Regions from separate parts of the Homo sapiens genome. Here all the other regions are linked to region 3. The links come from fine-mapping of genetic effects on gene expression. A gene starts in region 3. Each other region holds a variant in brackets. All regions are shown on one strand. Distances are from middle to middle.

Region 1 (9,265 bases), 82 kb before region 3:
GACATGAGGAGTGAATATAACGTACGATCCCTGACTGGGTCCTGGATGAGGGTTAAAAAGAAGTCCCGCAGGGCATTATGGAAATAACAAGAACAAATCTCAATATGTAGTCTATCAATGGTAAATTTCTTGAGTGTGAATAATTTTATTTTGGTTATTTATATACTATCCTTGTTCTTAGGTGGTTCATGCTAAAATACTTGGGGGTAAAGTGTTACGATGTCTGCAAAGAACGCTCAAATGATTTCAGCAAAATATACACACATACATGAAGGAAAACCAACAAATGGTAACTAAGTGAAGGATATACAGGCATTCACTATATATCTATATATCCATCCATCCATCCATCCATCCATCCATCCATCCATCCAATCATCCAATCATCCATCCATCCACCCACCCACCCATCTATCTATCCATCCAATCATCCATCTAATCATCCATCTAATCATCCATCCATCCATCCATCCATCCAATCATCCATCCATCCATCCATCCAATCATCCATCCATCCATCCATCCAATCATCCATCCATCCATCCAATCATCCATCTATCCATCCAACCATCCAATCATCCATCTATCCATCCATCCAATCATCCATCCATCCATCCATCCAATCATTCATCCATCTAATCATCCATCCATTTAATCATCCATCCATCTATCCATCCATATTTCCCCTGTCGCAGCAGTTCTGTTCTTGCAATTTATCTTTAAGGACATGCCCAGAGATTTAGTTAGCAAAGATGTTCACAAAGCATTGTCTGTAGATCAGTGTAGAAGAGCATCTAACAACATAAGCAAGGATCACATACTTTCTAAATTAAAGGTTTGCTACAAAGCTACCTTAAGGGGCATGATACCATTTTTATAAAAAATAGCACATTCATCTACACATTAAAGAAAAAGGCTTAGAACTGCACAGTTGAACATGGTAGCTACTGTCCATGTACGCCTACTTTAATATATAATATTAAGATTACATACAACCAACAATTCAGTTCTTCAGTCTCACTAGCCACATTTCAAGAGTATAATAGCTGCATGTGGCTAGTAGCTACCACGCTGGATAGTGCAGTTATAGCACAGCACTGCAAAATTTTGTTTTGTTTTAAAAAGAGACAGCAACTCTGTTGCCCAGGCTGGAGTATAGTGGCATGATCACGGCTCACTAAAGCCTCAAATTCCTGGGTTCAAGTAATCCTCCTGCCTTAGCCTCCCAAGTAGCTAGGACTATAGGCATGCATCATCATGCATGACTAATTTTTAAACTTTTATTTTGGTAGAGACAGGGTCTTGTTATGTTGCTCAGGCTGGTCTCAAACTCCTGGGCTCCTCCTGCCTTGGCCTCCCAAAGTCCTGGGATTACAGGTGTGAGCCACTGTGCCTGGCCAAGAGTATGTTTTTCTTGTTTCTTTTCTTTTTTTTTCCTGGAGACAGAGTCTTACTTCACTGCCCAGGATGGAGGGCAATGGTGCGATCTCGGCTCACTGCAACCTCCGTCTCCCAGGTGCAAACGATTCTCAAGCCTCAGCCTCCCGAGTAGCTGGGATTACAGACGTGCGCCACCATGCCCGGGTTTTTTTTTTTTTTTTTTTGAGATGGTTTCACTCTTGTTGCCCAGGCTGGAGTACAATGGCGTGATCTTGGCTCACTGCAACCTCCGCCTCCCAGGTTAAAGTGATTTGCCTGCCTCAGCCTTCCCAAGTAGCTGGGATTACAGGCATGTGCCACCATGCCTGGCTAATTTTGTGTTTTTAGCAGCGATGGGGTTCCTCCATGTTGGTCAGGCTGGTCTCGAACTCCCAACCTCAGGTGATCCACCCATCTCGGCCTCCCAAAGTGCTGGGATTACAGGCGTGAGCCACCGCGCCTGGCCACGCCCGGCTAATTTTTGTAATTTTAGTAGAGACGGGGTTTCACCATGTTGGCCAGGCTGGTCCTGAACTCCTGACCTCAGGTGATCCACCTGCCTCAGCCTCCAAAAGTGCTGGGATTGCAGGAGTGAGCCACTGCGCCTGGCCTGCTTTATTTTAATTATATATCATCTTTTCTTAACAGCAACATGGTATAGCTGAACTCCGCTCAGAATACTACTAGAGGAGAGTTTCATTTTCTTTTTATTTATTTATTTATTTATTTTTTGAGGCGGAGTCTCGCTCTGTCGCCCAGGCTGGAGTACAGTGGTGCCATCTCCGGTCACTGCAAGCTCCGCCTCCCGGGTTCACGCCATTCTCCTGCCTCAGCCTCCCAAGTAGCTGGGACTACAGGCACCCGCCAGGATGCCCGGCTAATTTTTTGTATTTTTAGTAGAGACGGGGTTTCACCATGTTAGCCAGGATGGTCTCAATCTCCTGACCTCGTGATCTGCTCGCCTCGGCCTCCCAAAGTGCGGGGATTACAGGCGTGAGCCACCGTGCCCGGCCGAGAGTTTCATTTTCTAATCAGTTCTTGAAGATGCTTCCACATATGTCTGTCATATCCTACAGAGAGACAATCACTTCAAGGTATCATTAGCACCTAAAAAATCTCTAAACAAATGTGGATGCCAAATTATAAAAACTACTACTAAACAAACATCCACAGATCTCCTTGGAACTCCTTTAGGCACATAGGAATGTCCACAATCCCTTACTAGTATTGACATATCTTTCTATGGAAATACAGATGCTCCTAAATAAGCCAAATAAACTAGATCATGTGAGCAAGGAGGTATAACAGTTAAAAGGATTCATATAAATAAAGTGAAACAGAGAAACAAACATCTTCAACAGTGAACAGGTCTCTAAGAATGCTGCTTTTTCTCCGTAAGAGATATTACACATTTGTTTTATTTTATTTTTTTTGAGATGGAGTCTCACTCTGTCGCCCAGGCTGGAGTGCAGTGGCACAATCTCGGCTCACTGCAAGCTCCACCTCCCGGGTTCACGCCATTCTCCTGCCTCAGCCTCCCGAGTAGCTGGGACTACAGGCGCCCGCCACCACGCCCAGCTAATTTTTTGTATTTTTTGGTAGAGACGGGATTTCCCCAAGTTAGCTCGATCTCCTGACCTCGTGATCCACCCGCCTCGGCCTCCCAAAGTGCTGGGATTACAGGCGTAAGCCACCGCGCCCGGCCGAGATATTACACAATTTTTAAAGATACAGTGAGCTAGCAGCATCTCCCCCTCAAACACCGACTGGCTCTACAGATTCTTTATAGAATCTGCATTCTAGAGAAATAACTTTCACATCACTATAACAACAACAAAAGCTAAAGGAAAACTATCTTTATAAAGAAGTTATTTTAAAGCCCAGAATAATTCAGATTATTTAAGATATCATAAAGCATTAATCCAAAAAGGTATAAACAGTGAAGATGCAAAAGAAATGGTAAGATTATGCAAACTTACGAGGGTCATAAGGCACATGCCAGTACTGACATCCCACATCTTAATAGTCTTGTCTCTGGATCCAGACAGCAAGAATGGCCCAGGTTTACCACTTTTTTTAGTCTACAGAAAACATAATAAAAATTAAGTTTCCCACACAAGAAGTTAGGTATGGACTTTAAATGGCTTCTATCTAATAATGATATATATTTCCAATTTTTTTGTTGCATTTTGGTTTTTTGTTTGTTTTCAGACGGAGTCTGGCTCTGTCACCCAGGCTGGAGTACCGTGGTGCAATCTTGGGTCACTGCAACCTCCGCCTCCCGGGTTCAAGCGAATCTCCTGCCTCAGCCTCCCAAGTAGATGTGATTACAGGCACGCACCACCACATGTGGCTAATTTTTGTATTTTTAGTAGAGATGGGGTTTTGCCATGTTGGGCAGGCTGGTCTTGAACTCCTAACCTCAGATGATCGATC[G/A]GCCCACCTCGGCCTCCCAAAGTGCTGGAATTACAGGCGTGAGCCACTGCGCCCAGCCCAATTTGTTTTTATCTGTTGAAATACACAAGTCTTTCACACCATACCTATGCTACACAGGAAGGACTCAGATAATGTAAGAACAGAAGTCTCTATTTAGGTTAGGACTCAGTTTTCATAAAACCAACAGATAATAAATTTACTTTTCAAGATTTCTGTAATCACTATTTAATTTAACTTTTACAAATCCAACCAAAACCAAATTTACTTATTTATTTTTTTGATCTGGATTAGGGAATATTTATTTATTTCAAGACAGGGTCTCATTCTGTCACCCAGGCTGGAGTGCAGTGGAACAATCATAGCTCACTGCAGCTTTGAACTCCTGGGATCAAGCAATCTTCCTGTCTCAGTCTCCCTAGTGGCTGGGACTACAGGAGTGTACCACCACACCTAGCTAAGTTTTTGAAAATTTTTTCCGTCATTAGTATAGTGGTGAGTTTAAAAAAAAAAAAAAAGTTTTCTGTAGAGACGGGGTCTCGCTATGTTGCTCAAACTCCTGGGCTCAAGTGATCCTCCTGCCTTGACTTCCCAAAGTGCTGGGATTACAGGCGTGAGCCACCACACCAGAATCAAATTTATGACATACAGCATGTAACCACCACCAGAGGGCAGTAAACAGAATCTCAAAATGCAATGGGCCAATCAAAATAAAGAGAACTCACAAGAGAAGATTCATTTAGAAAAATAAGTGGGATGGGGGTAGAGGGAGAGGAAACTGCCTCCTTTGTTTATTGACATGTAGTTTTAAAAATACATGATAGGAATGCCTCTGTCAAAATCAATGTGAAGCCAGGCACAGTGGCTCACACCTGTAATCCCAGAACTTTGGGAAGCTGAGGTGGTCGGATCACTTGAGGCCATGAGTTTGAGAGCAGCCTGGCCAACATGGCAAAACCTTGTTTCTACTAAAAATATAAAAATTAGCTGGCAGGGTGGTACATGCATCCGTGGTCCCAGCTACTCAGGAGGCTGAGGCAGGAGAATCGCCTGAACCTGGGAGGCGGAGGTTGCAGTGAGCCGAGATCACGCTACTGTACTCCAGCCTGGGCAACAGAGTGAGACTGTCTCAAAAACAAACAAAAGTTTTAGACCATTCATTTTCATTCATTTATTAGAAACAGGGATCTTGCTATGTTGTCCCAGGCTGAACTTTAACTTCTGGACACAAGTGATCCTCTTGCCTCAGCCTCCTGAGTAGCTAGGACTATAGCCATGTGCCGCTGTACCTTGTAATTTTTAACATATTAATAATAAAGACCAAAACCATAAAGATCACAAAGAAATGCGTTAAAACTCCAGGCTCAGCTAGTACTTTTAAATGATCAAGAACATCAGAGGCTGCCATATGGATTAGTCTTCATTTAAAAAAACATTTATACTATCACATCTGGAATTAATTTTAAAAAATAAATACTGAACTGCATTTTACCATAAATTTATAAATAAAATCATTATCTTCATTAATGAAGGCTATTTTTCTGACAGAAAACTTTAACCTCTCCCTCAGGTTTTGTTTTACATTGAGATGATCTCATAACACTGATTTTTCTGATAAATTTTAATTCTTTAGGAGAATACCCATCACGTATCAAATCAAGGATAGGCTGACAGCAATAATCATCACTGGTTAAATAATGTAAACACATCAGCAAGCTGTGAAGAGTAGAGAATTTCAAGATTCAGAATTGCTGGATGCAGATTTTTAAATGCATTAACAGCCCTGAAACAGGGAATTAGCAAAGTTATCTAAGGACTTCAGATATCAGCAATAAAACCATGAAGACATTTGTATATACAGTACCTCAGATCCTGTTGCTTCAGAGATGGAGGAATATGAGCTTTCTGGAGCCCAGGAAATGCATTCTACCACATGCTCATGCTCTCGGAGCTCAGCCTTGCATTCCTTTGTTGCTACGACCCATACACGCACAGTCTGGTCATTGGAACAGCTGGCTATCAGAGTGCCATCTTGATTTGGCCGTACCATACGTACCCATTCTCTGTGTCCTGTGAATGTCTTCACACAGTAGCTGTCAATATAAATAATAACTTACACTGTGAATGACAATCATCAGGACACTTCCCAGAAGTGATATAAAAATATGTACTGGGATGAAGAGAATGGTACCAAGTTAGAGATGCAAGTCGACAGAATAAATGTACAATCCTGGTTAATTAAAGTAGGAACAATAAGCTAACAGACATATCATTAAGGAGCTAATAAAATCAACATCTAGAAGATAAAATATGTATAAGAAATAAAATCTTTCAAAACTAAATGCACACTTAAAAGTATTTCCAGCCATATTGGAAAAAAGCTATGCTCTACTAATCTGAGTAAAACTAGTAACTTTGTACTACAAAAATCAAGTGTAATTCTATGCACAACCAAATTCAGCCTAACAGAGGTATACCAGCACAAAGATTATTTACTTTTTGTTTTTTTTTTTTGAGACGGAGTCTCGCTCTGTCGCCCAGGCTGGAGTGCAGTGGCGCGATCTCGGCTCACTGCAGGCTCCACCTCCCAGGTTCACGCCATTCTCCTGCCTCAGCCTCCCGAGTAGCTGGGACTACAGGCGCCCGCCACCACGCCCGGCTAATTTTTTGTATTTTTAGTAGAGACGGGGTTTCATCGTGTTAGCCAGGACGGTCTCGATCTCCTGACCTCATGATCCGCCCGCCTCTGCCTCCCAAAGTGCTGGGATTACAGGCGTGAGCCACCGCGCCCGGCCAAAGATTATTTACACTTTAATTTAAACCCACAGAGAGATCACCTAAAAGAAGACCACAGAGGAAATAAGCCATTACACAGAAATGCTTCTCAAGGACATAGAGTCTCTCCTTACAATGTCTCTGTGCTCCTTTTTGGGAGACATGTACAGATCAAACTTAGTTTTAAAGTATATTTAATATGACTGTCATAATGATCATTCCGGGTTAAAGTCGAAGTGACTGCAACACCAGAACACAATTTTGTTTTTTATAAATATGTCTTTAAGCTGATGCCTTTTCTTTTTTTTTGAGACGGAGTCTCACTCTTGTTGCCCAGGCTAGAGTGCAATGGCACGATCTCGGCTCACTGCAACCTCCACCTCCCAGGTTCAAGTGATTCTCCTGTCTCAGCCTCCCAAGTAGCTGGGAATACAGGTGTGCGCCACCACACCCGGCTAATTTTTGTATTTTTAGTAGAGATGGGGTTTCATCATGTTGGCCAGGCTGGTCTTCAATTCCTGACCAGGTGATCTGCCCACCTTGGCCTCCCAAAGCGCTGGGATGACAGGTGTGAGCCACTGCACCTGGCCGCTGATGCCTTTTCAACTAAACTTACTTACCCAGTTTGCACTTCCCACATTTTTATAGTTTTATCCCTTGAGGCAGACACTATATGATCTCCATTGGGCATGATGGCTACTGAAGAAACATTGTGGTCATGGCCTAAAACACATAACAGCAATATATTATGAAGTAATATACCACCAAGAGCAATGAAACATCAATTGACCATGGGATTTTACCATGGGGTTTCACTATGTCAAAGCAAGTTCTAAATACACTGGATTTTATACAAATTGGATAAGAAACCTGGATTTACACGATAAAGTTAAAAAAATCAGTAAAACAACAACCCACAAGGAAATAGTCAACTCCATTTAGGATTAAATTTCAACCTGTACAAATGGTTTAAAAACAAAAGGCATCACGATTATCAACATTTGAATATATTCATATACTTACCTCAGTGAGTCTGAATGTTTACATATGAACGCTAGGGAAACATTTTTTTTTTTTTTTTTTTTTTTTTTTGTGAGGCAAGGACTTGCTCTGTTACCCAGGCTAAAGTGCAGTGGTGCAATCATAGCTCACTGTAGCCTTGAACTCCTGGGCTCAAGAGCTCTTCCCGCCTCAGCCTGTCGGGTAGCTGGAACTACACAGGTGTGTACCACCACATCTGGTACCACCACACCCACAACTATTTTATTTTTTGTAGAGACAAGGTCTCCATATTTTGCTCACACTGGTCTCGAACTCCTGTCCTCAAGCAATCCTTCCTGCCTTGGCCTCCAAAAGTGCTGAGATTATAGGTGTGAGCCACTGTGCCTAGCTTCTAGGTTGATATTCTAAGATATAAAAAAGATAAAGCAAATGGATACAAAAAATGGGGAATTGGTTCTCTGTTTAAAATGGTGGGCCAGGCGCAGTGGTTCATGCCTGTAATCCCAGCACTTTGGGAGGCCGAGGCGGGCGGATCACCTGAGGTCAGGAGTTCAAGACCAGCCTGGCCAATATGGTTAAACCCTGTTTCTACTAAAAATAAAAAAGTTAGCCGGGTGTGGTGGTGCTTGCCTGTATTGCCAGCTACTTTGGAGGCTGAGGTGGGAGAATCATTTGAACCTGGGAGGTGGAGGTTGCAGTGAGCAAAGATTGTGCCACTGTACTCCAGCTTGGGTGACAAAGCAAGAGGCCATCTCCAGAAAAAAAAAAAAAAAAAAAAAGGTGGTGTTGGGGGTAAAAAAAAAAAATGCATTAGAAAGAACTCTTTTTAAAGTTACAGCTAGAAGATACAGGCAACTTAAAGAAAAATAAATGATAGACCTTACGTGGCTCACGCCTATAATTCCAGCACTTTGGGAGGCTGAGGCAGATCAGGAGGTCAGGAGTTCGAGACCAGCTTGACCAACATGGTGAAACCCCGTCTCTACTAAAAATACAAAAATTAGACGGGCGTGGTGGCGCGTGCCTATAATCCTAGATACTCAGGAGGCTGAGGCAGGAGAATCACTTAAACCTGGGAGGCGGAGGTTGCAGTGAGCCAAGATTGTGCCACTGCACTCCAGCCTGGGCGACAGAGTGAGACACAGTCTCAAAAAAAAAACAACCAAAAAACAACAACAAAAAAACAGTGTTCATGCGTGGAATTCCTGTAATTATAAACTTCCCCAATGCATTTAATTTGGGACAGAGAAAACACAACCTTCAAATTATGCCCTCTAGGTAAACACAGTTTACTCATGTGTTAACGTGTTCCTTGTACAAAATCCCAACATTCAAATGTCATCATGTATAAAGAAACAACAAAAATCCCTAAGTAATGAGCATCTCCTATGTGGCAGGTACTACACCAAGATGATTTATCTTATGACTTCATCTTATCCTCATGACAACTCTATGACTCTGGTATTATTACCTCTGTTTTGCAGATGAAAGAGGTTTAAATTTTCTAATACCGTAAGTAGACAAGTAGGAATTTGAACCCAGGTGTCTGACTCCAAAGCAAATTACTCTCTTTCCACAAAACATACTGCCTCAGAAAACAGTTCCCACAACAAGACCCGGGAAATAATGAACGAGG
Region 2 (10,499 bases), 110 kb before region 3:
AACAGGATCTTGGATGGGATGTGGGGAGAGCAGCCTGAGGAACTCTGAACTGTCCTCAGGCCCTGAACGCCTGCCTCTGGCCTGGGTGGGACAGGAAGGAGGCAAACAGGTGCCTGGTCTGTAGGTTCTTCCATAGGCCGCCTGCCCGCCCCATTGCCTTTCCCTGAAGCCCTGGGCTCCCGGGACGGGTGATGCACCTTTTCGGACCCTACTTCCTGCTGGAGCCTCACTTGCTGAGGCCTTGGCTGGGGCGTGGCCTGGCCCTGGCACAGTCTTCTGAGTGAGATTGTGCCTGGCTTGGGCAGCACACAGGTCCTCTGGGAGGCCTAAGTTTCTTTTCTAGTTCCTCCTCTCTGCCGCCTTTGAGCTCCCGGCGCCTCCAGGCCGGGGCAAGGGTGTGCTTTGTCTCTTCACTAGCATCTGAGTTTGCGTGTATGCAGAGTGCTGTTGGGGCACGGCTCTCCCGCTCTGCAGAAGACCTCCTTTTCCCCTCCCCTAAAGCTCACATCCTCAGAGGTGCTCCTGGACTATGAGAGGAGGGAGTATTGGCCCAAGGGTGTAGAGGCCTTGGGGAGTGCTGTGACTGGGATAGTTCTGCTCCCCCCCCCCCGAGTAGAGGCTGAGGCCTGGACGAGGAGGCAGGTGCAGCCTACCTGTGGGTGCTGCCGGGCCCCTCGGGAGGGGGTGGGTGGGCTGCGCTGAGTGGGAGTGGGTCAGTGGGAGCGGGTCCATGGGAGCGGGTCGGCGGGAGCAGGTCGGTGGGAGCGGGTGGGTAGCCCGCGCTCAGTGGGAGTGACTCAAAAGCCATGGGCTTGGGCGTCTGACACTCCTGTTTTTTCTTTCCTTTTTTTTTTAAACTTAATCCCAAATGTGATAGTAACACCTGGTTTTTTCTTGCTCTGGGTTGGCTCCTCTTGCCTCTGTGACCTTGGGCAGCTGCTTCCTAGCCTTCTGGAGCCTCAGTTTCCTCAGGTGAGATGGGCTGGCACGGCGGTTTAGGGAGCTGCCGTGGGCTGGGCCTAGCGTGAGTCCTGGCTCTGTGGTAATCAGAGTGCAGGTGGTTGTCAACACTTCTCTGGGGTCACTGCCAGGCTGCCCTGCCCCACCCCTCTCTCCGGAGGGTTAGGGTGTATTTCAGGAGAGGGTAGGAGCAGAGGGGCTCTGTCTAGGCCTGGTCCTTCTCCTCTGGTCATTGTGTGAGACCCAGAACCTTCCATGGGGGCTGTGAAGCAGCCCAGGGTCTGCCTGATCCCTGGTCCTGGAGGGGAGGGGATGGAGTGAGAGCCTGGCTCCCGCCCACCCTGGGTAGGGTGGATGCTGGGGCAGCCCTTACTGGGCACTGGCAGCATGTCAGAGGCCCTGGGAAGGCGCCCTGGCCAGCTGGGCACCTCCTCCCCCGCCGTGCGGCCACTGGCCTCTTGCTGCCAGCTCTGTTCTCCCCTGGGAGAGACTTGGTTCCCTCCTGGCAGAGCCGGGGCTGCTGGGAAGGGAAGATGGAGCCTGCCAGCTTCTTGATGGAGCCTGGAGGCCAGGGGCACGGGTGCAGTTGTCCTCTGGGAAGCTGGGGGCCCATCCCCCTCCCTTCCACCAGAACCAGTGACTCCCAGGAAGGGGCTGGCAGCCAGGTCACCTGCAGGGGGCAGCAGGAGCCAGAGGTCCCAGCCAGGCCCTTGGCCCAGGGACAGTGGGGTGCTCAGTGTCTGGGACTGGTGGGCAGAGGCAGCCACCTTATGGCCTGGACCCGGGTCTGTGCCAGCTGTTGGCGGCAGCTGGCAGAAGCGGTCCTGTTCACCCCCACTGGGATGGGAGCGGAGGAGAGGACCCCCTTGCTGGGCCCTGCCCCTGCCAGCCAGTCTCCTAGGCCCTCAATCTTGAGGGGTCCAGGTACCCCAAATTCTGGGTTCTCCGATCCCCCTAGCGGCTTTGCCGGCAGTGACCCCCTCTCTAGGGGGCATAGGGAGGTGGGCCTGAGTGCTGATAGCAGCTCCCCCTGGGGTCCTGGGGCCACCGGGTTCTCCTGGCCCACAGCCGTCCTTCTGGCCGACCTTGAGCGGGATGCCAGGCAGGGGGAGTGTGCCCTTCCTGGGGCTGCCATGGCAGGCCTGGCCCCACTGAAACCCGAAGCCAGCCGGAGCTCCAGCCCCGGGCCGACTGGCTGCATTAGGGCAAGGGTAGCGGCAGAGGCTGGAACAAGGAACCCGGGCAATGCTGGGGCTGAGCTGGAGAGCTGGCTGCCTTGCTGCCACGGCCATCCTGAGACTCCAGAGCCGAGGGGAGGGCAGCTGCCAACTGCACCAGGTGAGCACCGGGACCTGGTGAGCCAGCCAGCTGCCTGCGGGGGAGATCGCTCAGCCTTCATCCAGGGGTGGGGAGACCTTCGGGGTTCCTAGGAGGAAGGATTAGGGTAAAACATGCTGTCCTGGGGAGAGGAGGCCCCTTGGGAGCCAGCTGCATTCCTTTGAAACGGGATAGGGAATAGGTACCCCCTGAGGGTCGTCTCCCTGGGCTGGGGAAGGAGAGTGGGAGCCGCGGCCACCTTGCCTTGTCGTCCCTCCTTTCTGTCCTCCCATTCCAGACATGCGAAAGAACACAGGCTGTCTCTGTCTAGGTATTTGACTCCCCACTTTTGGGATCTCATAGCTCAAAACTGCTGTTCTATATTGGGTGGGGGCCCTTCCTGCTTCTCCCCTTATTCCAGGGGCTTGGCAGCCAGCACAGCCTTTCTCAGGGACCCTGTGGGGGCAGTTCCTCCACCTGGCTGCCCTGCCTCTTGCTGTTTGCAAGCTGACCGACCACCGCCCCGGCTGTCTTTCTGCTCTGTCACTAGAGTCAGGCAGGTGTGTGGGGCTGCTCACGTGCGAGGGGATTGGGGGTGCCCTTCCTGGGGCGGTTGGATCCTGGAAGGGAGGTCTTTGTACATCCTCGTGGTTCCTGGGAGTCCACTGCAGGCTTGGAGAGGGTGGGGTGGAGAGCCATGACATGCACAGTTACTGAAGGTCCTCAGTGGCCAGAGTTGAGGGAGTGCCGCGGCGTAGGGTGCGGGCTGCAGGAGGGAGTCTGGGGCCCATTCTGACTTGGTTGACCTTAGGCCAGGCTCCGAGCCTTTCTGGGCTTCAAATACCCCTCTTTGGGGTAAGGGGGAAGAGACTCTGAGCTCTTAGAGGTCCTGTTTCTCGTTTGCTCGTGGGGATCCAGGGAAAGGGAGCGACTCTCTCCAGGCCCCCCGGTCTCTGCCTTTCCGTACTGGCCTCATCCCTTCCCTGAGGCTCCTGCTCCGTGTTTCTGGTGGGTCCGGATTGGGACCACACAGTTCTGGGAAAGGCACCTGTCCCCGCTCCTGAGAGCCGGGTGGGGAAGGGGAGGTGGGGTCTAGATGGGATGGGCAGAGCTGGGCGAGCTCTTCTTTCTGGAAGGGAACCCAGGCACTCCTCAGAGTTGGGACCGTTGAACTTCAAGCCAAGCCAGGCAGGTGAGCCTGGCCCATGGACAGATCCTGGGGGCCAAGGTCCTCATCTCCTAGATGGGTGCCCAGGCAGGCCCGTGTCTGCTGGAGGGTTACTGAGAGGCGATCCTTGGCTCCTCAGCGGAACAGGGGGTTCTCCTTTGTTCCACTGGTGCCTGGGTAGGAATGCAAGGTTTTGTCACCTGCTCCCCACCCTGGAGCATGTGGATTGGGTGCTGTCTTCAAATATTGGATGTAGCTAGAGGTTTGCAGTAAGTACTTTATTTGTTGCCTTTTTTGTTGAGCCTGGGCAAGATAGAAGGTGGTGGGTAGAGCTGCTGGTGAGGACGCCACCCTGGGTGCAGCCGAATGTCTCTGGGAATGAAAGGGGGAGGGAGTGTGATTCTGCCATTAAGGGTCATTTGGGCAGGCTGTGGAAAAGGTTTATTTCTCCTAGGCCTTGAAGGGTGAGTCAGTGTTTGCTGTACAGAATGGGATGTCAGGGGCAGCACAGACACAGAAGCACAGCGGTGGGAGGGCGGTGGGAGGGCTGTGGGCGGTACCAGGCTTGCATGGTGTGGTGTCCTTAGACCTCAGCAGGGAGCAGGCAGGAGCTGAGGCTGACTTCAGGTGGGTGCCTGAGAGCGCTGGCCTGAGAAGCTTGGTCTTGTAAGCAGTGGGCTTCCTAGGAGGGTTGCAGGTGGCACTGCTGAAATAGAGGAAATGCCTGCCCTAGGGCAGTGGCTGCAGAGGCCGGGTCCCGTGGGTGGGTTGGGAGATTTAGGGTGGGTGACTAGATAGAGCAGGTGCCAGTTTGAGGAGGAAGATGAGTTCTGTCCCTGCAAGACGAGGCTTCAGTGATGCCTCAGGGACAGCCACATGTTGATGCCTGGGAGGCAGCGGTCTCCTTGGTCCAAAAGGCTGGAGAGAGGACAGGATTGGCCGTGTGAGCCACGGGGCAGGAGTGTATGGGAGGGGGTGGGGTCAGAAACAGGAGAGGCTGGGCCTAGGCACTCCCCTGCAGCCCCCCTGCAGCCCAGGACCACAGCTCAGGAGGGATGGAAGAGGATGGAGCTGGAGAGGGAGGGGCAAGGGCACTGTGTGGGGTCAGAGAAGAGGAGAGGAAGAGGGGAACTGCTGCTGGGAAGCTAGGTGTGTTAGGGCCGGAGGAGACCCTCGGGCTTGGCTTGAAGGGTGGCTTTGGTGACCCTGGGGAGAGTGGTTTGGGACATGGGTTCAGGTGCAAGCCATACCACAGTGGGCCAGGGAACAGTGGCTGGGAGGGGCGGCTGGGTGTGGAAGTGGCCTGCAGGTGCACGGAGGGCGAGGCGCGACCGTGAGGCTGGGACTCTCGAGGGCATGCAGATGCCTTTCCAGAAGGCACGTGTCCCCGTGTGGGGTCAGGCGGACAGCCCCGCCGACCAGCGAGGCTGCCTGATTCTGACCCGTTCTTGTCACCCGCAGAGCTGCCATCAGTCATGCTCTTAAACGGGGACTGCCCAGAGAGCCTGAAGAAGGAGGCGGCGGCGGCCGAGCCACCCAGGGAAAATGGGCTTGACGAGGCCGGCCCGGGAGATGAGACCACCGGCCAGGAAGTCATTGTCATTCAGGACACGGGCTTTTCTGTGAAGATCCTCGCCCCTGGGATCGAGCCCTTCTCCCTGCAGGTAAGATGGAGGAACGGGTGCTGGGGGCCAGGCCTGAGCCTGCTGGGGAGGGTGAGCTGGAAAGCTCAGCCTTGCTCGTGCTCCTACCGGCCCCATTTTGTGGCAGGAAACTGAGGATCCCGTGCCCTCCCTAGAGTCACTCAGCTAGCGTGGTGGACGTGGGAATCGAGCCCAGGGTCAGGTCGTTGCCCCATTGCTAGAGGACAGCAACCAGCTGGGCCTGCCAGCCCTATGTGGGGAGGGGAGTGATAGTGGCTGGGAAGTGTTGGCATCCCAGGACTCCCCAGCCTCTTGCTCTGTGCCCTCAGGCAAGTCACCTCTCTCTGGGCCGTGATTTTACCATCTGCCAGAGGGGAGGGTAGTATTGGGTTATCTCCAAGGGCAGAGCCAGCGTGGAGGTCTTGCAAGCCGGTGACTCAGTGGGGAACGAGACAGGGTCGTCGTATGTCTCGGCACCCGCAGGCTTGGGCCCCAGAGCACCCCTTCTGGAAGGGGAAAGCCATTTGCCCCAGGCACCTTAGCACTGGGCAAGGCCGGGGGCGAGCCTGCCGTCTTCTGTCCCGCTGTTCTTCATCTCCCTTCTCTGCTCGGGCATTGCTCTGGGTCTGCAGGCCGAGTCGGTGGGCCAGGCTCCAGGCTGCACACACAGGGCATGGCATGTGTGGACATGGCCTGGATTTAAAAGCCAGAAAGTGGGATAGCCGATATTCGAGTATTTGGGGCATTTATTCTGGGGACCAAGGTACTTTGGGCTGGGGACAAGGGGATATTGTCCTTGCTGTCCGCTACGTGGCCTCTCAC[C/T]GGGGCGGTTGGGGCCTTCTCTCCCCGCTACGTGCTCTCTCACCGGGGTGGGCGGGGCCTTCTCCCTGCAGGTGTCCCCCCAGGAGATGGTGCAGGAGATTCACCAGGTGCTCATGGACCGGGAGGACACGTGTCACCGCACCTGCTTCTCACTGCACCTGGATGGCAACGTGCTGGACCACTTCTCGGAGCTGCGCAGCGTCGAGGGGCTGCAGGAGGGCTCTGTGCTGCGTGTGGTGGAAGGTTGGTCTGGAAGTTGGACAGCCTGCCCGGGGGAGGGCCCACGGAGGCAGAGGCAGGCAGCACCATCCATGCCAGGGTCCCTGTGTCACGGATGAGCTCATGGAGGCAGGATTGGAGCACAGATCTGCTTCTCAGGCCAGCACACCTATATCTGCCAACTTCACGGCCCATGGGTTAAAGAACAGAGCCGTGGGCTGGGCATGGTGGCTCACGCCTGTAATCCCAACACTTTGGGAGGCCAAGGCGTGTGGATCACCTGAGGTCAGGAGTTGGAGACTTGCCTGGCCAACATGGTGAAACCCCATCTCTACTAAAAATACAAAAAGTTAGCTGCGCGTGGTGGCAGGTGCCTGTAATCCCAGCTACTCGGGAGGCTGAGGCAGGAGAATCACTTGAACCTGGGAGGCAGAGGTTGCAGTGTGCCCGGATCGTGCCACTGCACTCCAGCATGGGCAACAAGAACGAAACTCCGTCTCAAAAAAAAAAACAAAACAAAAGAACAGAGCCGTGATTCTAAAAAAAAAAAATCAGGCAGTACCATCCCAGGGCGTGAAGTCAGCGCAGTTCAGTTCTGTAGAGATCCATGAGAAGTCCCAAACGTTTCCTAGCCCTAGAGTGGGGAGGTCGGGCACGGGGAGGTGCCATCCGGTTGGTCTGTGGCCTCGAGTTTTCTGGGTAGAAGCTGCTTGGGTTCCACCCCAGGGCCTGTCCGCCTGTTGAGAGCAGTGACGGAAAAGGTCTGTAGCTCAACAGCGCCCACAGTTGATCACGGAACCTCTCCCCTCCACCAAAAGAACTGCCATTAAAATCCCATGAAACCACATAGGGGCAGTGTTGACATTGGGGGCCTTGGAAAGTCCTCAGGCCACCCCTACATGAGGCTGCCTCGGGAGAGCAGGGCAAGGCTGTGGTGTGGAAGTCCCACAGCTCCAAAAGCCCTGCCCAGCCGACACACTGGCGCACAAAAGCAGGCAGCCTTGTGGACGCCTGAGGCCTGTGTGTGCTTCAGAGGCATTTGGCAGAAAGTTCTTTATAAACAAAGATCCCTGCTCACCAGTAGGCAGAGTGTGTGTGTGTGTGTGTTTGTGGTGTCAAAACCAGAACTCCAGCTTATGTGTTCACAGTGGAATTTGAAAACGGAAACCTAAAGTTGAAAATTAAAACCACTGTGTTAGCACCTCCAAAACCTGTTTTGTGCTGGGCAGGTTGTTCAGGGTGCAGGGCCCTGGTAACGCCATACCCTCCCTGCCTTCCTGACAGAGCCGTACACGGTGCGTGAGGCCCGCATCCACGTGCGCCATGTCCGAGACCTGCTCAAGAGCCTGGACCCATCCGATGCCTTCAACGGGGTTGACTGCAACTCCTTGTCCTTCCTGAGTGTCTTCACCGACGGCGACCTGGGAGGTGCGGGAGGCACTGGGGCCGGGGATTGGGCCAAAGGGCGGGGAGCACGGAGGTGGGGGGCTGGAGAAGGGGCCGAGGGGCCTGGGCCTGAGGCACCCGGACCACGGCCATCAGGAGGTAGGGAGACAGCTGGCCCTGGGTGGCCCTGTGCTGACCACCAGCCTCGGGTCCCTCAGACAGCGGGAAGCGGAAGAAGGGCTTGGAGATGGACCCCATCGACTGCACACCACCCGAGTACATCCTGCCAGGGAGCCGGGAGCGGCCACTGTGTCCCCTGCAGCCCCAAAACCGTGACTGGAAGGTAGGATCCTGGGGGAGGGAGGAAGAGGGTCCCTGGCGGGGTGGAGGCCCCACACCAGAGGCCTGGCCCCTCAGACTCGGCCGCTCCCGAAGCCCTTGCAGTGCCTGAAAGTACTCACCATGAGCGGATGGAACCCGCCCCCGGGGAACCGGAAGATGCACGGGGACCTCATGTACCTGTTTGTGATCACAGCCGAGGACCGGCAAGTCAGCATCACCGCGTCCACACGGGGCTTTTACCTGAATCAGTGAGTCCCTGCCAGCCCACCACACCCCCCTGCCGTGCCAGCCGTCCTGGGTCTGGGCAGACACCTGGGCCCCCGCTCAGTGCCCGCCCTCTCCCTGCAGGTCCACAGCTTATCACTTCAACCCCAAGCCCGCCAGCCCCCGCTTCCTAAGCCATTCCCTAGTGGAGCTGCTCAACCAGATCAGCCCGACCTTCAAGAAGAACTTCGCTGTGCTGCAGAAGAAAAGGTAGTGCCTTTGTCCCCTCCCGCCTTGTCTCATGGCACACGGGGGCATGGGGTGAGCCGGCCCACCTGCACTCCAGTGCTTCTGTCTGAAGAAACCGCCCTGGGCCCCCAGTGTTGGAGTCCCCGCTCTAGGGAGCTGTCGGCCAGTGCCGAGACAGCAGCCGCAGGAGAGGCGCCCGTGCACTTCCATCTGGCTCCAGGGCAGTGTCTCAGGGTGGGAGATGCCGGAGCAGGCGGGGGCCTCAGAAAAGGGGCCCGTGGAAGGGCTCTGAGCTTGGTGGGCTGCCCCATCTCCCCCTCCCCTGCCTGCCACAGGGTCCAGCGCCACCCGTTCGAGAGGATCGCCACCCCATTCCAGGTGTACAGCTGGACAGCCCCCCAGGCGGAGCATGCCATGGATTGCGTGCGTGCAGAGGACGCCTACACCTCGAGGCTGGGCTATGAGGAGCACATTCCTGGACAGGTGCCTGCAACCTGGCCCTGCCCTCGCTGGGCACCCCTGCCCTCCTGGGTGCTGGGCTGGTTCCGTGCACTTCCCTGGAGGCCCCATGCTTGACTTCATTTGGGAGTCTGGGGCTCTTCTCAGGAAGGTAGAAGGAGCGACTTCCGGGAGCAGGTCACAGGGCACAGGCTGAGCTCGTTTTTCCCTCCCTGATCTCTCTGCAGACCCGAGACTGGAATGAGGAGCTGCAGACGACGAGGGAGCTGCCTCGCAAGAACCTGCCTGAGCGGCTGCTCCGAGAAAGGGCCATATTCAAGGTGCCTGCAGCCTCTGCTGACCGGCAGTCTGAGGCCCGCTGTCCACCTGCTGACGGGTTTTCTCATGGAGAGGAGGAAAGCAAGGGAGGCAGGGGCAGCCCTAACCCTGTCAGGTTCCCCGAAGGCCAGTCAGCGTCTCCCGCAGGGTCTGCTAGCCTTCCGCCTCCCAGCAGACCATCCCAGTACCTTTCTCTGGCCTCTCTGAGGCTTTGAGTCCCTGGAAGGAGCGGGCCCTACTTCCCATAGGGACTGAGTGTCCAGGGCCGTGCAGCTTCCCGCCCTCTGTGACTGCTGCGGGGCTTTTGCCTGGGCGAGCACTGGCCGGCCATGGCCCTTCTAGGGCGGGTGCTCATTTGCATAACACTTTTAGTTTGCTGGGGTTTAAAAGTTATTAGTGCTGGGTTACTAAGAGAAATGAGGAAAAGCAGTTGCTTAAGAAAAAAAAAATCTCAGGCCGGCTTCAGTAGCTCATGCCTGTAATCCCAGCACTTTGGGAGGCCGAGGCGGGCGGATCACAAGGTCAGGAGTTCAAGACCAGCCTGGCCAATATGGGGAAACCCCATCTCCACTAAAAATACAAAAATTAGCTGGGTGTGGTGGCGCATGCCTGTAGTCCCAGCTACTCGGGAGTCTGAGACAGGAGAATTGCTTGAACCCAATAGGCGGAGGTTGCAGTGAGCCGAAATTGCATCACTGCACTCCAGCCTGGGCGACAGAACAAGACTACGTCTCAAAAAAAAAAAAAAGAAATCTCAGCCAGGCACAGTGGCTCACGCCTGTAATCCTAGCACTTTGGGAGGCTGAGACAGGCAGATCACTTGAGCCCAGGAGTTGGAAACCAGCCTACGAAACATGGTGAAACCTCGTCTCTGCAAAAAATACAAAAGATTAGCCAGGCATGGTGGCATGTGCCTGTAGTCCCAGCTACTCGGGAGGCTGGAGTGGGAGGATGGCCTGAGCCAGGGGAAGTCGAGGCTTCAGTGAGCTCGGATCTCGTGCCGCTGCATTCCAGCCTTGGCAACAGCGTGATACCCTGTCTGAAAACAACCAACCTCCCATAGTTATACTGCCTAGAGATGATAATTGTAGAAACAAAAACTCATTTCTCGGGTACCGACTTCACCAGAGATGGTGCCAAGTGCGTTATAGAGACTATTTCCTATAATATATTGGACAACTTGTAAAGGTCAATACCTTTATCTGTTCAAGTTCACCTGGCACATAACTGGTGGATCCCAAACCTGCGCACGCTTGTTAATCACTAAGCCCTGCTGTCTCCCTCAGCACAAGTGTATTCTCAAAACATGGGGGTTTTGGTTTGTTTGCGCTTTTTTAGAAATGGAGTCTCACTCTGTCCCCCAGGCTGGAGTGCAGTGGTGTGATTTCGGCTCACTGTAACCTCCACCTCCC
Region 3 (10,499 bases):
TATTGTATACCACTAGTTTTATTTTAAATAGAACAACTTTCTAAGTAAAAAAAAAAAAAAAGTAATAGTTGTACTGTAGATGACATAATAAAAACAGTGGCAAAGAATTTCCACTTCAAAACTTAACTATTTCCCTCTTTCCAAAGCACATAAAAATAAGTTACCTGTCATAATGAAATATTTTCGTTAACAGGGACTTAGAGGCAAGTAAAAAATATTTTAGGACCACAAGCAGAAATGGCCAGCTTGGTTTAAAACCAACCGAGCCTCAAGTCCCTTTGGCAAAAGAGCGCATGACTCACTGCTTTAGAACTCAATGGGAAGATATTGAAAATTCACTCTGCCCTAATATTTTGCTTTGGGTTTTTTAAGACATCTTCATCTTATTTTTATTTATTTATTTATTTTTTGAGATGGAGTTTCGCTCTTGTTGCCCAGGCTGGAGCGTAATGGTGCGATCTCGGCTCATTGCAACCTCCACCTCCCGGGTTCAAGCAATTCTCCTGCCTTAGTCTCCCCAGTAGCTGGAACTACAGGTGTGCGCCACCATGCCCGGCTAATTTTTTTGTATTTTTAGTAGAGACGGGGTTTCACCATGTTGGCCATGCTGGTCTTGAACTCCTGACCTCAGGTGATCCACCCGCCTCGGCCTCCCAAAGTTCTGGGAGTGTAAGTGTGAGCCACCATGTCTGGCCAGACATCTTCATCTTAATGTTGACAATTTCTATAGCATCCATGACTTATTCACAAAGATGACAAATTATGAATAACATGAACCACATGTAAACAAGAGGGTCTTATTTTTGCTGGATACTTAAAATATAAGCCATAAAGTCTCATATACGCAGACAGACAGACAGACACACACACACACACACTTTCTGTCTCTCTGTTACTTAGTATACAACTGAGAGAGAAACATTTATATTATTTTTAAAAAATAGAAAATAGGGAAGGGTGTGGTGGCTCACATCTGTAATTCCAGAACTTTGAGAGGCAGAGGCGGGCGGATCACGAGGTCAGGAGTTCCAGACCAACCTGACCAACATGGTGAAACTCCATCTCTACTAAAAATACAAAAATTAGCCAGGTGTAGTGGCAGGCACCTGTAATCCCAACTACTCAAGAGGCTGAGACAGGAGAATCGCTTGAACCCAGAAGGCAGAGGTTGCAGTGAGCTGAGATCACCCCACTGCACTCTAGCCTGGGCAACAGAGCAAGACTTCCCCTCAAAAAAAAAAAAAAAAAAAAAAAAAGACACGGATGTTCTAGCTAGAAAAGCATAAATTATGATTCTGACTTTTCCTTCCCAGAAACATCTCAAAATCTCTTTACACTAGAGATATTTTATCTGGAAAAACAGGTAACAAAAAATTGTACTAAAAAATTCCTTCCAATCTCATTAAGAGTTCTATACAGAACTATGAATAATTTTAAAAATTAATCTCCAAATTAAGCCTAAGATTCTCCAACATGTATCAAGAAACACTACATACACTTGGAACTAAAGCTCCTTAAGTCAAATTATCTTAAGCTCCTGATTAACAACAATCTACTGAAAAATCACCACTCAGTGTGTGGGGTTTTGTTTGTTTGTTTTTGACAGAGTCTTGCTCTGTCGCCCAGGCTGGAGTACAGTGGCACGATCTCGGCTCACTGCAACCTCCGCCTCCCGGGTTCAATCTATTCTCCTGTCTCAGCCTCCCCAGCAGCTGGGATTACAGGCGCATGGCACAAGACATGGCTAATTTTTTTGTATTTTTAGTAGAGACGGGGTTTCACCATATTGGTCAGTCTGGTCTCGAACTCCTGACCTCAGGTGATCCACCTGCCTCGGCCTCCCAAAGTGCTGAGATTACAGGCGTGAACCACTGCACCTGGACCTTAGTGTGCTTTGATATTCTACAAACAGTAGGAATAGGGATATGTCAGACACATAATACAGTGAATTATCATTCCCAACCTTACTCATTTCCTCACCATAATAACCCTTCTACTTTCTAATCATATTAAAAAGAACAAAAGTGTAAAAATACATCATACACTGACAAGCATTCATAAGGCTAATCAAAGTCACATTTACCACCTATATGTGAAATTCTTTTGAAGATGTCTACTCATGTGAATGCTTGATACAGGGCATTAAAATGACCTACCCTAGCTTATGGCAGTATCTCACAAAAAGGTCCCTTTCAAAGAGCAACACAAGAGAAAAGATCTGAAGGGGCTTTCATGCAAATTATCTTATCCTTTTTTCCCCACCTTTTATGTTCACTATTTTAAAATCTCAAATAGATTTACTGTTTTAAGTAAAACAATTGTAGTATTTTTCTTAGATTATTGCAGTATTCCTGTACCCCCTATTTCTTGCCAAATATTTCTGACATTAATTTATACTTATATGGCGAGAACAATAAAAAACATTAACAAGAGTGTAGATATATGTGTGTGTGTATCTTTATATATTAATATATACACACACACACACAGGGACAAATAAGGAGACAATAAGTGTCTATTTTAAAGCAGGGACATTGCTTTTTATTCCAATCATTCAATGCCCATCATGCAAAAAAGGTGGAAAACATTAGATTTTAAGACTTACGACAGAGAAATGACTTAGTTGTAGCAACCATTCATATCAAATAACCTTACAAAACATAAGCAAGAGAAAGACGCTGTGAAAGGGCAATACAGCATTTCACAGCTTCTGCTCCCTTACTCCACCCAGTCTTCTCGGCTCAATGGCTGTTCACAGCATCCACAAATATTAGCCCATTTTTTTAAAAAAGGATGTGGGGGGAGGTACCAACGTAGGGCTTGCTCCATCAAAATCAACATATACAGAAATACTTCAAGTGAAAAATTGGATTCCTTTCTGATTTTAAAATATATACCAGCCTTCAATTTCTTTTAGGAGATTCCCCCCTTCTGAGCAATCCAAACAATGATCATTAATGAACACGAAAGAAATCACCCTAAATACAGATTACTCTTCTGCTTTATTAAAAACTGCAATTTGCAACTGCTAATTATTTTGTGAAACTGTGTCCTAAAAGACACCCATTAGAGATTAAAAGCTAGCTAATGCCTTAAAACCAAATCAGAATTTTTTAAGTAAAAGCTTTTACTATATATTCAACATCACTATGACACAGTCAACAGGAAATTTTCCTGATTATGAGACTGGACCCCGCAGCAATTAAGCCGCCCTGCTGCAGCAAAAAAAAAAAAAAAAGCAAACACTCCTGTGGCAAAAAGGGAGGGATGACATTATCACTGGTATGAAAGGCCCAAGCACTGTCTCCTCCGCCCTAGCCTCGAAAAGAAATTCACACAAAATAACCCACCCCCCCAACAAAAACAGAATTGCCAAAAATGGCACAAATTGTTTGTTTGGCCTTTAAAACCTTATGAAACTCCAAGACTGTGTGCTTAAAGGAGAGATGGGAATATCAGTAATATCTCTATTTGTCCGGACTGCCACTTAAGGAAAGAGGGAGGGGGGACCTTGGCATGACATCGCCCATTGAGAACGAGACCACAAATCTGGTCCTCCTCTTCAAAGGCGTATTTTCTTAACCAAAAGACTGATATAAATTGGGCCCAAACCCCAAAAGAAAATTTCCTGCCCTCTTCCCAAGGAGTTTCTTGCTAAGTCACTGAAGAAAGGTAGCATAACATATAAAGCTATGGTACCTTGCTCTCTCCTACTAAATACGGAAAACCTCTTCCCCTCTACTGCTACGTTTAGAGGTGCAGAGTCAAAATGTGTCGACCACCTCAAAGGCATTTTCTCATGTGGGAGGCTAAAGAGGGTAAATATGCAGAGGCACTGCGTTTCCCAAAGGGGCAGGGAGATGAGATTAGACGAAGGGGAATGGCAGGGAGCCTCGAAGCTGAATGTTAACAGCATCAAAAGGCAACTCCCGACCGAGGAGCCGGTGGCAGAAAGAAAATCCTGCCAGATTCGGTGGGTGGATGCTGCGGATTGCTCGGTGGGCCGGGCTGCCTCTCCTCGGCGGGTGCTGAGGCTGGACCGCCGCACCGGGGGCCAGGGAGACGGTGGGCCACCCTCCGCTGGTCAACCCCATCTTAAGGACCAGTCGGGGACGGAATGCCTGGAAGGCCCTATGAGTGCCCCGGCGGCGCGGGGCTGAGCCGGTCCCCGAGCCGATAACTGAGGGTGGGGTGGGGACTGCGGTGCTCGTCTCCGCGGCCGGGGAGAGCAGGGCCGATCCTTTTCCCCAAGATCAGAGAGCTACCTGGTCCCCACGCCCTTCCAACCCAAGAATACTTTTCTTGCTAAGTCACCGAGGGAGGAGGGCGATCCCTTCTTGGGGAGGGCCGCGGGGCGGGGGTCGCAGAGGCGCCGGCAGCCCCCAAAGCCGGGCCCGGGAGGAGAGGAGCGAGGGCAGCGCCCTCCCCGGACAGTCCCCCTCCTCCGGGTCTCTCACTCAACGGCCGTCGCGGCCGCCATTTTGAGAGCGAGGAGAGAAGAAGAAGGAGGAGGCGGCGGCGGAGGCAGGGGGAGGGGAGAATGGGAGGGAGGGGACCGGCGCAGCCACATCGTCAGGCCGCCGGGTCCGGCCTGCAGCCGCCCGGGCGCGGTGGAGGAGACAGAGGGGAGGGCGCAGACCCGCGCCGCCTTACCGGAGCGCTGCACCGCCGCCTCCGCAGGGCCTCTTCCGTCCTTCACTCCCATCCACCGGCGGGGGAGGGGGAGGGAGAGGGGAGGGAGGAAGGAGGGAGGGAGGGAAGGAGGGGGGAGGATGGCGCGCTGGGCCCGGGCCCGGGGAGGGGGAGGGGAGGGGAGCGGGCGGGCTCCTCAGCCGTTCCGGGGCTCGAGTCCAAGCTCGGCGCTCGCGGTTTCTCTCGCTCGCGCCCGAGCGCTCCCCTCCTTCTCCTTCTCGCTCCCTAGACTCCCGTGTCGCTGCTCCTCCGCTCGCTCACTCGCTCTCCCGGCCGCCGGACTCCGCCGCCGCCCCGCCGCTCCAGCTCCGTCTGTCACAGGAGCTGCCCCAACGCCCTGACGTCACCGCGCCGCCGCCGCCGCCGCCGCCGCCGCCCCAGACCCGCCAGGAAGAGGGAGGGGCGGGCGCCGGGAGCGGAGGAGGGGCTGCGGCGCATGCGCCGGGCTGGGCCGGGCCGGGGCCGCGCTGCCTTCTAGCGGGCGGGCGGCTGAGCGGTGCCACCCGGCCGGCGGGCGAGTCTGCGTGCGAGGTGCTGCTTCTCACGCTCCGCACGCTTCTGTTAACCTTGGGAGAGGCTCTTTTTTCCCAGCCCCTCGTCTGACTTGCGGCCCCTTCTGAACTCTGGCTCTGCTCACCTCGCTGCCCTGCTTTTGCGCTCATGCGGCCGACCGCGGCGTCCCGTTGGCACCGTGTGTGGCGGGCCCCGGGAGGCGCGAGAGGCAGCGGGGCCCGGCCACCTACCGCCCCTTTCTGCCTCCGGCCTCCGAGATGATTTCCCAGTTTGGGGGGGAATGAGGGAGGGGAGTAGGCTGGCTGGCTTGGGAGGAGGAGCTGTTGAGGTTAAAAGGCAGATGGAATGCTGTCATTGTCTTGATTTGTATTATAGATTCTTAATTGGGAGGACTCGCTTTTGGATATGATTCAGCTATTCTTCTCCTTAGTCACACACAGACATCAGAGTCTCTCCAGGTCTCGAAACGGATGCCCAAAGAAAGGCCTGGAACTGTATCCCTATAAGGGATGTCTGTGTGTGTTTGCTAAATTATGGATTGAAATATTGATGACAAGAGTCGTCTTGGGGATTTGTAGTTAATTTATTCCACACAGATACCTATGATTTTTCTTTTCTTTTCCTTTTTTTTTTTTTTTTTTTTTTGAGACGGAGTCTCGCTGTGTCGCCCAGGCTGGAGTGCAGTGGCGCGATCTCGGCTCACTGCAACCTCCGCCTCCCGAGTTCAAGCGATTCTCTGCATCAGCCTCCCGAGTAGCTGGGAGTACAGGCACTTGCCACCACGCCCAGCTAATTTTTGTTTTTTGTTTTTGTTTTTGTTTTTGAGATGGAGTCTCGCTCTGTCGCCCAGGCTGGAGTGCAGTGGTGCAATCTCCACTCACTGCAGGCTCCGCCTCCCGGGTTCACGCCATTCTCCTGCCTCAGCCTCCCGAGTAGCTGGGACCACAGGCGCCCACCACCACGCCCGGCTAATTTTTTTGGTATTTTTAGTAGAGACGGGGTTTCATCATGTTGGCCCGGATGGTCTCGATCCCTTGACCTCGTGATCCGCCCGCCTCTGCCTCCCAAAGTGCTGGGATTACAGGCGTGAGCCACCGTGCTCAGCCGACCCTTGATTTTTAAAAAGCGAGATTTGGGGTTCTGAATAATTCAATATGGGCTATTATTTTAATAACAGGTTTAAATGAGATTATCTTATCATTCATTTGTATTGTCCAAGGAAGCTTTTTTCTTGAAACAGGCTTAAGCTTATGTGTACTGATTTTATTGCGTCACTTTATGTAGGTAAATATATATATATATACTGCATTTGAGAAGCAGCAGAGTTAACGAAAGAGACAACTTAGGTGTAAATCCTGGACCCCGCACTTGCCAGAAGCGCGACCTGGGGCAAATTACCATACCTCTCTTTGGCCTCAGTTTCTCAATAAAAGACACCTAATAACTAACCCGGCTTTTGTGAGAATTACAGAGGAGGTGCAGCCTGTGTAAAGTATCTTAGTTTCGTGGGGACTTATAGGTAACTCATGTAAACATTACTGTTGCTTGATACCAAAACAAGTTTCCTTTGTTCAAGAAAGGTTATCTCTGCCAGGCACAGGTTGCTAACCCCTGTAATCCCAGCAATTTGGGAGGCCAAGGCAGGGATGGGGAGGTTGGGAGGGGGGCCGTGGATCACCTGAGCCAAGGAGTTGGAGACCAGCAGGTGCAACATAGTGAAACCTCATCTCTACAAAAAAATTTTAAAAATTAGCTAAGTGTGGTGGCACATGCCTGTAGTCCCAGCTACTGGGGAGGATGAGATGGGAGGATTGCTCAAGCCCTGGAGATCCAGACCAGCCAGGGCAACAAAGCAAGATCTCATCTCTAAAAACAAAAAAAGAAAAGAAAAACAGCCGGGCGCGGGGACTCACGCCTGCAATCCCAACACTTTGGGAGGCTCAGACAGGTGGATCACTTGAGGTCAGGATTTCGAGACCGGCCTGGTCAACATGGCGAAATGCCATCTCTACTAAAAACACAAAAATTAGCCGGGCATGGTGGTGTGTGCCTGTAATCCCAGCTACTTTCGGGACTGAGGCATGAGAATCGCTTGAAGCCGGGAGGCGGAGGTTGCAGTGAGTCAAGATCATGCCACTGCACTCCAGCCTAGGTAACAAAGCCAGAGTCTGTCTCAAAAAAACAAACAAAAACAAAAACTTTTAATTAGCTGGGTGTGGTGGCGCATGCCTGGAGTCCTAGCTACCCAGGAGGCAGAGGCAGGCGGATCGCTTGAGCCCAGGAGGTCCAGGCTGCAGTGAATCATGGTCATGCTACTGCACTGTATCCTGGGCAGACTGGACCCCCATCTCTAAAAATAGGCTGGGATCAGTCGTTCAAGGCTGTAATCCCAGCACTTTGGGGTGCCAAGGTGGGAGAATCTCTTGAGCCCAGGAGTTGGAGAGCAGCTTGGGCAAGACAGGGAAACCCCGTCTCTACGGAAAAATAGAGAAATTAGCCAGATGTGGTGGTTTGGGCCTGTGGTTCCACCCATTGGGAGGCTGAGATGGGAGGATCGTTTGAGCCCAGGAGGTGGAGGCTGCAGTGAACCGAGATCACACCACTGCACTCCAGCCTGGGTGACAGAGCAAGACCCTGTCTCAAAATAAAGTTAAATTAAATAAGTAAAATGAGTAAAAAAGAAAGATTGTCTCTATCCCCTAAGTGTTCAAAGGCAACATGAGCCAATTGCATGAAGGCCTTGGGTTTTTGCCTCATGAAGATTTGCCAGAGATGAATCAAATTGTCTTAGAAAGTCTTGTCCAGTTTTACATTTCTGGGATTTTCAGATAAGGACAATAAAATGAGGCATAGAGCTTTGGTCTGTGCTATTGCTTGGGTTCAATAACAGTCAATAAACATGCAATAAATTAGCATCCCTTTGTTCTAAGAATCCACCCTCCCTTCATTTTTACCTTTTAAAATATTTATTATGGTCTGATATCATGCTACTTAATATTTAATTAGCTGAGTAAATCAGTTCCTTATTTTTTAAACGAATGCTCTAAAAGTAAATAAAATTGCCCAGAAAGAGATCAGAAACACTTTTATAAACACTGACTTCATACAAATAGGTAGCACTAACTCCTATAAACCTTGAGCTCACAGACTCATATTTAGAAAGATTTAAAATCTATATGATGTAATTATGCACTAAATTTATATCAAATTTTATTTCTATAGTGGTCCTTCAAAAAACAATAAACTCCCTTTGTGGTAAGGTATAAAACTTTCTCCCTGGATTATGATTTTTCTGAACAGAAAACGGTTACGTGCTTACCTTGATGTGAAGTGATGTGTTACGGTTCTATGCACCTTCCCTTCAGTTAGCTGCTAGGATGATAGATCTATCTTTTTTTTTTTTTTTTTTTTTTGAGATGGAGTCTCACTCTGTCGCCCAGGCTGGAGTGCAATGGCATGATCTCGGCTCACTGCAACCTCTGCCTCCCAGGTTCAAGCGATTCTCCTGTCTCAGCCTCCATAGTAGCTGGGATTACAGGCGTGCGCTATCACGCCCGGCTAATTTTTTTTTGTATTTGAGTAGAGACGGGGTTTTACCATGTTGCCCAGGCTGGTCTCGAACTCCTGAGCTCAAGCAATCCACCTACCTCAGCCTCCCAAAGTGCTAGGATTACAGGCGTGAGCCACCACGCCCGGCCTGATAGATCTATCTTAATAAACACTTGTCTATTGAAAATGTAGAATTAGGACATCTGTGCTATCAATCAGAATTTGTAAGGACTTATACAGAACTTACTATATCCATCCAGGAAACGTTTAATAATGGACATTTCAGATGATGTTTCTTGAAAAAAAATAAGTATAAACATCCATTTTACTTACCACAATCCAAGAATCTCCCTGTTCATTTTAATTGCAGATCTTTATTTTTCCAGTAGACATTTTCAAAATGGAAACATAAACATTTATTTATTGATTTATTTATTGAGACGGACTCTCACTGTGTCACCCAGCCTGGAGTGCAATGGCACAATCTCAGTTCACTGCATCCTCTGCCTCCCGGGTGAAGCGATTCTCCTGCCTCAGCCTCCTGAGAAGCTGAGATTACAGGCGCCCGTCACCATGCCCAGCTAAGTTTTGTATTTTTAGTAGAGATGGGGTTTCACCACGTTGGCCAGGCTGGTCTCGAACTCCTGACCTCAGGTGATCTGCCCACCTCAGCCTCTCAAAGTGCTGGGATTACAGGCGTGAGCCACCACGTCCAGCCTGGAAACATTTATTTCAATTGCTGCAGTAAAATTAGTGTCAGTTTAAACAATTCTGCAAATAAGCTGACTGGAAGAAACACTCCAAAAATACTTCTATTGGGAAAAGGACAAAAAGTCTTCTAAAGGTATCTCCAGAGCAAAAGTCTGTTTATGATAAGGGCAAATGTTAAAGTGTTGTTTTGAGAAATTAACTGTCCTCTATAATTTATAGGCAAATGTACATTGTTATGTGTGCAAATTTGATAGAAAGCAATTAGCAAGTTGTGAGAAGGGAGCTTTTGGGCATCCAAGTTATGTGAATCAAGGTCCCATTTAAAGGAGAATCACGACCCGCCTGTCATGCGACTCACTCTGGGAGATTATAGCTAGTTATTGTGTGTACCTGCATTTCCCCAAGGCATGGATATGTCAGCGAGGGCAAGTCCAACTAGACCCGTCCTTCCTCATCTCAGCATCATGACATCCACCTGTGTCATGGACACTGTGAGTCCATAAAAACAAATTAAAGGCTCTTAACAGAGTGAAACTCAGCCTGGACATAGAAGGAATATTTAAAAAGCAGCACTTGCCGGGCGTGGCGGCTCACGCCTGTAATCCCAGCACTTTGGGAGGCCGAGGCAGGCGGATCAGCTGAGACCAGAAGTTCGAGATCAGCCTGGCCAGTGTGGCAAAACCCATCTCTACTAAAAATACAAAAAAAAAAAATTACCCAGGTGTGGTAGCCCGAGCCTGTAGTTCCAGCTACTCAGGAGGCTGAGGCAGGAGAATCGCTTGAACCCGGGAGGTAGAGGTTGAGGTGAGCCGAGATCGCTTCACTCCAGCCTGGGCGATAGAGCGAAACTCAGTCTCAAAAAAATAACATTAATAAAATTAAATATATATACATATATATGTGTATATATATATACACAGACATGATCCTTAGAAACATATATATAGTATATATATACACATATATATGTTTCTAAGGATGTCTGTATATATATACACATATCTATGTTTCTGAGGATCATGCATGTATATATA

Evidence for each region. PIP is the estimated chance that this variant, and not a neighbour inherited with it, causes the effect.
Region 1: its variant is fine-mapped to the expression of PAFAH1B1 in whole blood (INTERVAL, PIP 0.90).
Region 2: its variant is fine-mapped to the expression of PAFAH1B1 in whole blood (TOPMed, PIP above 0.99).

The regions. Positions count from the first base shown.
Region 1 is chr17:2,670,740-2,680,004 of GRCh38, reverse strand. PAFAH1B1 (platelet activating factor acetylhydrolase 1b regulatory subunit 1) reads right to left here. Exons shown (of 11, transcript NM_000430.4): 7 at 7,248-7,350; 8 at 5,717-5,945; 9 at 3,399-3,500. Among named protein-coding and RNA genes, the nearest start is that of MIR6776, 18 kb to the left of the region's middle. The variant G/A (reference allele first, on the strand shown) is at 3,856.
Region 2 is chr17:2,698,972-2,709,470 of GRCh38, reverse strand. CLUH (CLUH binding protein of NUMT mRNA) reads left to right here. Exons shown (of 26, transcript NM_001366661.1): 2 at 4,907-5,109; 3 at 5,982-6,153; 4 at 7,414-7,557; 5 at 7,734-7,858; 6 at 7,951-8,105; 7 at 8,206-8,331; 8 at 8,646-8,793; 9 at 8,997-9,089. Among named protein-coding and RNA genes, the nearest start is that of CLUH, 7.5 kb to the left of the region's middle. RefSeq lists enhancers at 406-605, 1,822-2,718, 8,757-9,257. The variant C/T (reference allele first, on the strand shown) is at 5,911.
Region 3 is chr17:2,588,161-2,598,659 of GRCh38, reverse strand. It overlaps PAFAH1B1 (platelet activating factor acetylhydrolase 1b regulatory subunit 1), which reads right to left and starts at 5,006. Exons shown (of 11, transcript NM_000430.4): 1 at 4,654-5,006. RefSeq lists silencers at 1-85, 4,158-4,207, 4,268-4,327, 4,738-4,967, 5,018-5,237 and an enhancer at 5,072-5,800.